2 linked regions of the Homo sapiens genome follow. The protein of the gene in region 1 interacts with the protein of each later gene in a pairwise test. Each region holds a gene or a part of one and is shown in the gene's direction. Other genes may lie near its edges.

Evidence for each region.
Region 2: the proteins of CREB3L1 (region 1) and ANKRD46 interact in binary tests that used the Homo sapiens proteins (3 or more experiments, as listed by UniProt).

Annotation. Positions count from the first base shown.
Region 1 is NC_000011.10:46,318,256-46,322,132, forward strand, and holds the end of CREB3L1 (cyclic AMP-responsive element-binding protein 3-like protein 1), read left to right. Parts: intron 1-2,008; coding exon 2,009-2,273; intron 2,274-2,454; coding exon 2,455-2,491; coding exon of another isoform or gene 2,492-2,642; 3' UTR 2,643-3,154; downstream 3,155-3,877.
Region 2 is NC_000008.11:100,521,397-100,525,649, reverse strand, and holds part of ANKRD46 (ankyrin repeat domain-containing protein 46), read left to right. Parts: intron 1-2,878; coding exon 2,879-3,095; 3' UTR 3,096-4,253.

The DNA of each region.
Region 1 (3,877 bases):
GACAGGAAGGAGTGTCATGATCCACTGATAATGTCTACCATGGACAGAAGAAGGGTAGCGGTGGTGTGGGTTCAGATATCTACTGTTTCCAAGGGGGATAGTAAACGTACAGTGGTTAGGAGCATGGGGATGTCAAGTCCATCGTAACTGGCACTGCCACCTGCTGTGTGACCAGGGGCATGTGTCTTAAGCTTTCATTTCTTCATCTAGAAAATGGGAGTGGCAATTTTGCACTTACTGAGCCATGGCTGTGAGACAGTGCATGAAATAGCACAGTGTCTGTGCTTATGAAATGAGCACACTCAGTCTCTTAGAGCTCACGGAGGAGAGAATAGCTACATCACAGTAGCTGGCAAAGGGAGAACCAGGGTAGGGCCCAGCAAAGAAGAGTGTGGATTTCAGACGCAGAGAATCCTTCAGGTGGACCCACAGAGGAACTTCCTGGCTGTCCCTCATCACTTACCAGTCAGTCACTTACCAAGAACCACGTGTCTGGCAGGACAGGAGGAGGAAGAGGAAACAGATGGGAGGTCAGAGGAGGGAAGATTAAGGAGTGAGTTTCAAGAAGGAGGGATATAGCAGGGAGGATGAGCTAGACGTTGAGGGCCTTGAGGGGAGGAAGCTGGTGTGGGGAGGGTTAGGGAAAGAGGAAGTAGAGACAGGGAGAGTGAAAGCTCCTCCCCGGACACGTGCAGGCTGAGGAGGAGAGAACGGGGTGGTCACTAAAGGCGGGTGGGCAGCAGCAATGCAAGGTCTGGAGAGCCATGTGTCTGCTTTTCCAAGGCCACAGAAGCCACTGGAGAAAAAGGAGTGGAAAGAGAGCTGGGGTTGATGGATAAAGCCACAGTGAGAGGAGGCAATGAATGAGCCCCTTGGAGGGAAGGCAGTGGGTTTTAGGCCCAGGACCTGGGCTGGGTGGAGAGGAAGACACATCCCAGCAGGCAGATGGCTTTGGAGCAGGCTGGTTTGCAGAGCTGGCGCACTGCGCAGTTCCAGGGACCTCTGTTCACACAGACTATGAGGTCATGGCTGCAGAGCCGGAGGGGCAGCAGATCCCAGGGCCAGGCAGACCTGGGTTCGCATCCTCCCTTCAGGGAGGACAATTTCCCTGAGTGCCTGGAACTTCAGCTGCCTCCTCTGGGAAGCGGGGCTAAAGAAACCTCATTCCCTAGAGTTTCTCTAAGATTTTAACCACTCTACTTAGGTCTATGGGCCTTGGATAATGCCTAACAAATGATGGGTGTCCAACAAATGTTTGTTTTCCTTCTCTGAAGGGCAAATTAGGATCTAGAATGGGGAAGAGACTTATTCCAGGTCTCACAGAAAGTAAGTGGTGGACTGGCCGGGTGCGGTAACTCACTCCGGTAATCTCAGCACTTTGGGAGGCCAAGGTGGGAGGATCACTTGAGGCCCAGGAGTTCAAGATCAGCCTGGCCAACATGGTGAAACCCCGTCTCTACTAAAAATACAAAAAGTAGCCAGGTATGGTGGCACACACCTGTAGTCCCAGCTACTCGGGAGGCTGAGGCAGGAGAGTCGCTTGAGCTCGGGAGGCGGAGATTGCAGGGAGTCAAGATCCTGCCATTGCACTCCAGCCTGGGCGACAGAGCAAGACTCTGTCTCAAAAAAAAAAAAAAGGGAGATAGAGCAAGTAAGTGGTGGAGGTTAGAACACAGCTCCCAGATGCCCAAACTCAGTACCCTCTGCTAGGAAGAGGTGACTTTTCTGAGTATTTCCTGAACACAGTTTCAATCACTTCCCCTGTATTACCTCATTTAAACCTCTCATTTACATGAGGTTGGTCCTAGTATCCCTATTTTACAGAAGAGCACACTGAGGCTCAGAAAGTTTAAAGCAAAGTGTGTGGCTTACCTGAGGTCACACATCCGGGAAGTGTCAGAGCTGGGACTCAGATCCAGGGCCTGCGTCCTTAACCACTAGGCCATGAATGTGGCCAGGATGTTGAGGGAATCTTGGGCACACCGCTCATCCTACACTCCCTCTCCAGTGCCCTCCCGAAGCCTCCTATTCTACGATGACGGGGCAGGCTTATGGGAAGATGGCCGCAGCACCCTGCTGCCCATGGAGCCCCCAGATGGCTGGGAAATCAACCCCGGGGGGCCGGCAGAGCAGCGGCCCCGGGACCACCTGCAGCATGATCACCTGGACAGCACCCACGAGACCACCAAGTACCTGAGTGAGGCCTGGCCTAAAGACGGTGGAAACGGCACCAGCCCCGACTTCTCCCACTCCAAGGAGTGGTTCCACGACAGGTGGGGTGTGTGGCCCCTTTCCCTCCTGAGGTCTCAGGCTCCACCTGCCTCCTGCCCACCCTTGGTCCCCACATTGGCCACACCCTCCCAAGGCCCCATCCCTACTTGGTCTAGATCCAGCTTGCAGAGGGTAAGAGGGTTCCTGCTGGACAGTCATCGCTGGCCTCTCTTCTCTCTCCAGGGATCTGGGCCCCAACACCACCATCAAACTCTCCTAGGCCATGCCAAGACCCAGGACATAGGACGGACCCCTGGTACCCAGAAGAGGAGTTCTTGCTCACTAACCCGGATCCGCCTCGTGCCCCTGCCTCCTGGAGCTTCCCATTCCAGGAGAAAAGGCTCCACTTCCCAGCCCTTCCTTGCCCCTGACATTTGGACTCTTCCCTTGGGCCGACCACTCTGTTCTCATTCTCCTTCCCACCAACATCCATCCGTCCTTCTCAGACAAACCACTCACTGGGTACCCCACCTCCTCTCTCATATGCCCAACACGACCACTGCCTCCCTGCCCCCACACCTGCACCCAAACAGACACATCAACGCACCCCACTCACAGACACCCCTTACCCCACCCCCACTGTACAGAGACCAAGAACAGAAATTGTTTGTAAATAATGAACCTTATTTTTTATTATTGCCAATCCCCTAAGATATTGTATTTTACAAATCTCCCTCTTCCCTTCGCCCCTCCCTTGTTTTATATTTTATGAAGTTAGTGCGGGCTTTGCTGCTCCCTGGCCCAGGAAAGAGGGACTACCTGACCCTCACCTGGCACCCCCCTGCTGCTGCCCAAGCCGCTGGGCCTTTTTAATTGCCAAACTGCTCTCTTCATCAGCTCAGCACATGCTTTAAGAAAGCAAAACCAAAAAAAAAAAAAAAAAGATGCAGCATCAACTCCTGACTTTGTGCCTTTCTTCATTGGAGGGGAGGGAAAGTAGAACCAAAGGGCAGGGGAACAACAAGGGTAGGTTGATTTTATGTTCTGGCAGGGGGTGTGGGGGTATAGGAGTATGAGAAGGCATTTTTTTTTTTTTGTAGAGGTAGGGTCTCGCTATGTTGCCCAGGCTGGTCTCAGACTCCTGGGCTCAGTCTGCCCACCATGGCCTCCCACAGTGCTGGGATTACAGGCGTGAGCCACCATGCCCAGCCTGTTCACTTTTTATTTTCCAATATTTTGTTGACTGATTTGTTATTTCCTCTTCTGTCTTTGGGCTTTATTTATAGCTTTTATATGTGTATGCTTTTATTTGAGGATTAGGAAGATAGTTTAGATAAATGTTTTTTATCTGCCTATTTAAGGAGAACCCCATGTATGTATGTATGTGTACATGAATGAATGACAAGATCTCGCTCTATTGCCCAAGTTGGAGTCCAGTGGTGCAATCATAACTCACTGTGGTTTCAAAATCCTGGGCTTAAGCAATCTTCCACCTCAGCCTCCCAAAGTGCTGGGATTACAGGCGTCAGCCACTGCACCTGGCCAAGAAGGCATTTCTATTGGGCTTTCTCTTCTAGCCAGGTGCAGAATTCAAACCAAACAGCCAAAGAATCTGCTGCAATTCACTCACCTCAGGGCTGCTCCAAGGATCAAGACAGAGTATCAA
Region 2 (4,253 bases), on another chromosome or scaffold:
CCATCAGCTGATGAAGGAATAAACATCATCTGTTCATCCAATGGAATATTACTAATATTATTATATTATACTGATACATGCTACAGCATGGATAAATTTTGAAAACATGCTACATTGGAGAAGCCAGGCACAAAAGGCCACATATTACATGATTCTGTTTATGTGAAATGTCCAGAATAAGCAAATCCATAGAGACAGAAAGTAGATGAGAAAGTAGACTAGAAGCTGGGAGAAGGGGCAATGGGAGTGACTGCTAATAGGTACAGAGTTTCTTATAGAGGTGCTGAAAGTGTACTGGAATTAGAAGAGATGGTTGTACAATTTGGGGAATATATGAAAAGCCACTGAATTGTACAGTTTCAAAAGGTAAATATTATGGGATGTGAATTATGTCTCAATAAATGTAGATGAAAAAGTTTAAAGAGATTGGCTAGCACATGGCATTATGGCATAATTGTGTAATGGCTTTTTCTAGAGCAGAAGATAAAGCAGGGTTTTAAATGTATTTACTATAATATTTTCCATTTCTCTTAGGATTCCCCCAAGACAGCACAACTTCTGCAGGCCTTATAAGGGACTATAAATCAAGTTAATGAAAAATATTTCCCCACTCCTCCATATAACTCTAAGTTTAATTCCTTTTTACTTTGTAGGTATGGGATAACAAAAACAGTATAGCTATCACATTTTTTAAAAAAGATACATGCAAACACACCCCCCAAAGACAGTGTAGATATCACGTTTTTAAAAAAAGATTATACACACACCCCATTATGTTAGAATCAGATATTCCCTGGACAGTAGAAAGCATTTCATTGGATAAAGTCTTTATAGAATATCCCGATTGGCAGAGCTTCATGAGCTCTGAAGAACAATGAGAATGCTCATGGAATTTTCATTTTATACCTAACATGTATAAGGGCATGTCAACTCGTAATCAATAAATTTTACATAGGTCAAACTAAGCCTCTGCAGAACTGTGTTATCTATTTGTGGTTTTACTCTTTTAGGCCTTCTCAAAGTTCTAATCTTATTTTTAAACTTGCTGTCAAGTGTTCCAAAATTACTGTGGTGTTGTAGATTCCCACTGAAAACATCATCTCTTATTCAGAGAATAAACATGTTTTAATTATTAAAAAAAAAAAAGTTTGGGTGTTAAGCAGACTGGCCCATTAGGAAGTCAGTTTCCCATGATCAGAGAAGACCTCTAATGTTGGTAAAGGCTGAAGGACTTTTGTTTGATGGTATCAAGAAGTAAAATAAAGTTGTAGGTTAAAAAATGTCAGTTTTGCATGTTTATTCATAGTTCATAATGAATGAGACTCTAAGATACTGTTTTATGGGAGTTAGGAAGGATAGTAATGAACTTTGATAACCAGTAGATAGTTGATTCCTATGATCATGGTTATGGTGGCTTTAATCTAAATGATACCCTCTTATTGGGCCTGTATGTTGTGATATAACCATGAGTGCTCTTCCCTTAGTGCTTCCAAGTACCAAAGTCAGATGCAGTTTCTCTTTGTGGTAGTCGTATTTCTCATTGATAAAGTTCTGAAAACCAGAATCAGTGTTTTTATGGTATTTGCACTACCTTATTTTCAACTAGACTAGCCTTTATGCAGAAGAGAAATGAACATATTCTGTCTTACTGTACAAGATAGAACTAACACCAATAGGAAGAAACTATTAAGAATTCCTAATGACTAGGCCAGCTGTGGTGGCTCATGCCTGTAATCCCAGCACTTTGGGAGGTCAAGGCAGGTGGATCACCTAAACTCAGGAGTTCAAGACCAGCCTGGGCAACATGGCGAAACCCTGTCTCTACCAAAAATACAAAAATTAGCCAGCCATGGTGGCATGCACCTGTAGTCCCAGCTACCTGGGGGGCTGAGGCAGGAGGATTGCTTGAGCTGGGGAGGTGGAGGTTTCAGTGAGCTGAGATCGCATCACTGTATTCCAGCCTGGGCGGCAGAGTGAGATTCTGTCTCCAAAAAAAAAAAAGAATTTCTGATGACTAGACGAGTCCACATGTACAACAGGCTGAGGAGTAACCTTCCATTATTAGAGAATTACAATTAAAGAAGGAATTCCTTCATTGGTCAGATTATTGAACTAAATTAATAAAAATTCCCTTTTAACTTCAAGATTCACACACACTGTATAAGTGACTTTTTAGATTTACTCATCTTCCCCCCTCCCCCCAACAGACATTTACTTTCTCAGTTCTAGGGCCTAGAAGTCTGAGATCAAGGTGTCACAAAGTTGGTTTCTTCTAAGGCCTCTCTGCTTGACTTGTAGATGACTGTCCTCTTCAGGTGTCATCACCTGCATGTCTGCTTATTCGTATTAACACATTCTTAAATTATGAGTCTGCACTTTGAATCTTCTAAATTTAACATAACAAGAATGTGTTGTGGTTTAATATCTTGATGGAGACAACTCATAACCTATTTCAAGACTTCTGCTCAGGACACCTTAAAAAAAAATAGAGATGGTGTCTCGCTATGTTACCCAGGCTGGTCCCGAACTCCTGGGCTCAAGTGATCCTCCCTCCTTGGCCTGCAAAAGTGTCGGGATTACAGGCATGAGCTACCACGCCCAGCCAGGACCTTTTAAATAGAATTTTTAACTTGAGTTTACTAAATTCTAAACCAAGAGAAACATACTCATTACCATTTAGCAATTTACAGTTTAGTATATATTGTTCAGATACGTAAGCATGTAAGAGTGTGTATATATATATATGTGTGTGTGTGTGTGTGTGTGTGTGTGTGTGTGTGTGTGTATTTGGTCTTTTCTAAATAGTAGCCCTGTGGTTTTATGTTTTTGGAATTGCTGTGTTTTTTTAATGCCCTTTTTGCTCTTTCTTCTTCCACAGTGCCATGGAAAGCCATTCACTCCTCAATCCCAACCTGCAGCAAGGTGAAGGAGTCCTCTCCAGCTTCCGAACCACGTGGCAGGAGTTTGTGGAGGATCTGGGCTTCTGGAGAGTATTGCTGTTGATCTTCGTCATTGCTTTGCTGTCTCTTGGCATTGCTTATTATGTGAGTGGGGTGCTACCCTTCGTGGAAAACCAGCCTGAACTGGTGCATTAAAGGAGCTCATGGAAGATGAGGCAATTAATTGCCTGTTTCCTGGCTTCCAATGTTTGTTCTCAGTTTCTCAGAATTTTTCTTAGCGCAAAGCAGTGAGGGCAGTACATGTTCTTTTTGCATTTTTAATTATTGTAATCCTTTTAGATAATGATGTGTTCATTTGAACTAACTACATACTATGATCAAGTATATTGCATCCTAACGCTACCTCTGACTCAACCTGACTTTGTAGGAAAGCCTACACGTAGCCTTGTTTGATAAAAACACGGAAGTGACTAGAGAATGGAAGATAAAGGAAGAAGCTAGGAAGTCCTTGCTATCAAAACCTTATCCTAATATAGGACCAATTGAAGTATTCAAAAAGAAAAACAGTATCTTATATGATTAGTTTTTGTTGGTGGTTTTGTTTTCATTTATTTTTGCAAGAGCCACTTTTTATTTACTTTCTCTAGGGATAAGAGATAAAACTTGAAGTACTTTTTTCAAATCTTGTGTGCAAATTAGTATTGTTAGCATCTATTTGGCTTATTTTAGTATTTTTAAGTCTAGTCACAAACCAAACAAAACTTTTGAAAATGAGCTATATTTTGTTCAAAGATAATTGATTTGATCTTATATTTATTTGTTTTTAGGATAATTTTTGATCTTTTTGTAAACTGCTTTGCTTGTTAATATCTGTGAAAAATAAATGAGTTCATTTTGTTCACTTTCCAATTTTCCCGAGTATCCTAGTCATCAAAGATAACAGTTCATCAGAATTACAGTCAGAAAATCCTTTTTCTACTGAATAGTTAGCAGGGAAAAATAATTCTGATATTTAACTGTCATAATTCTGTAGTGCTATTATAGTGAAAAACTCAGTTCTATAAGCTAGCTGTGTTGTCACAGTTTTATCATAGTTCATAATTATTTCATGTGCAATCCTATTTGGAGGCCCTGTTAGACTTTTAACAATCCCATCCATATCTGTAATTCTCTGATGGCAAGAATGGATGGAGCATTTCTGAGTTAACAGTGCTGGACAGTATCGTACTGGGTGTCATAAACTCTTTATGAATGGTAATATTATGTAAATTGAAATCTGGCCCTCAAACTATATTGCAGCTTTCAGCAGTATGTTTGAAGGCCTCTTTTGTTAATGATTCTGTAATGTATGAA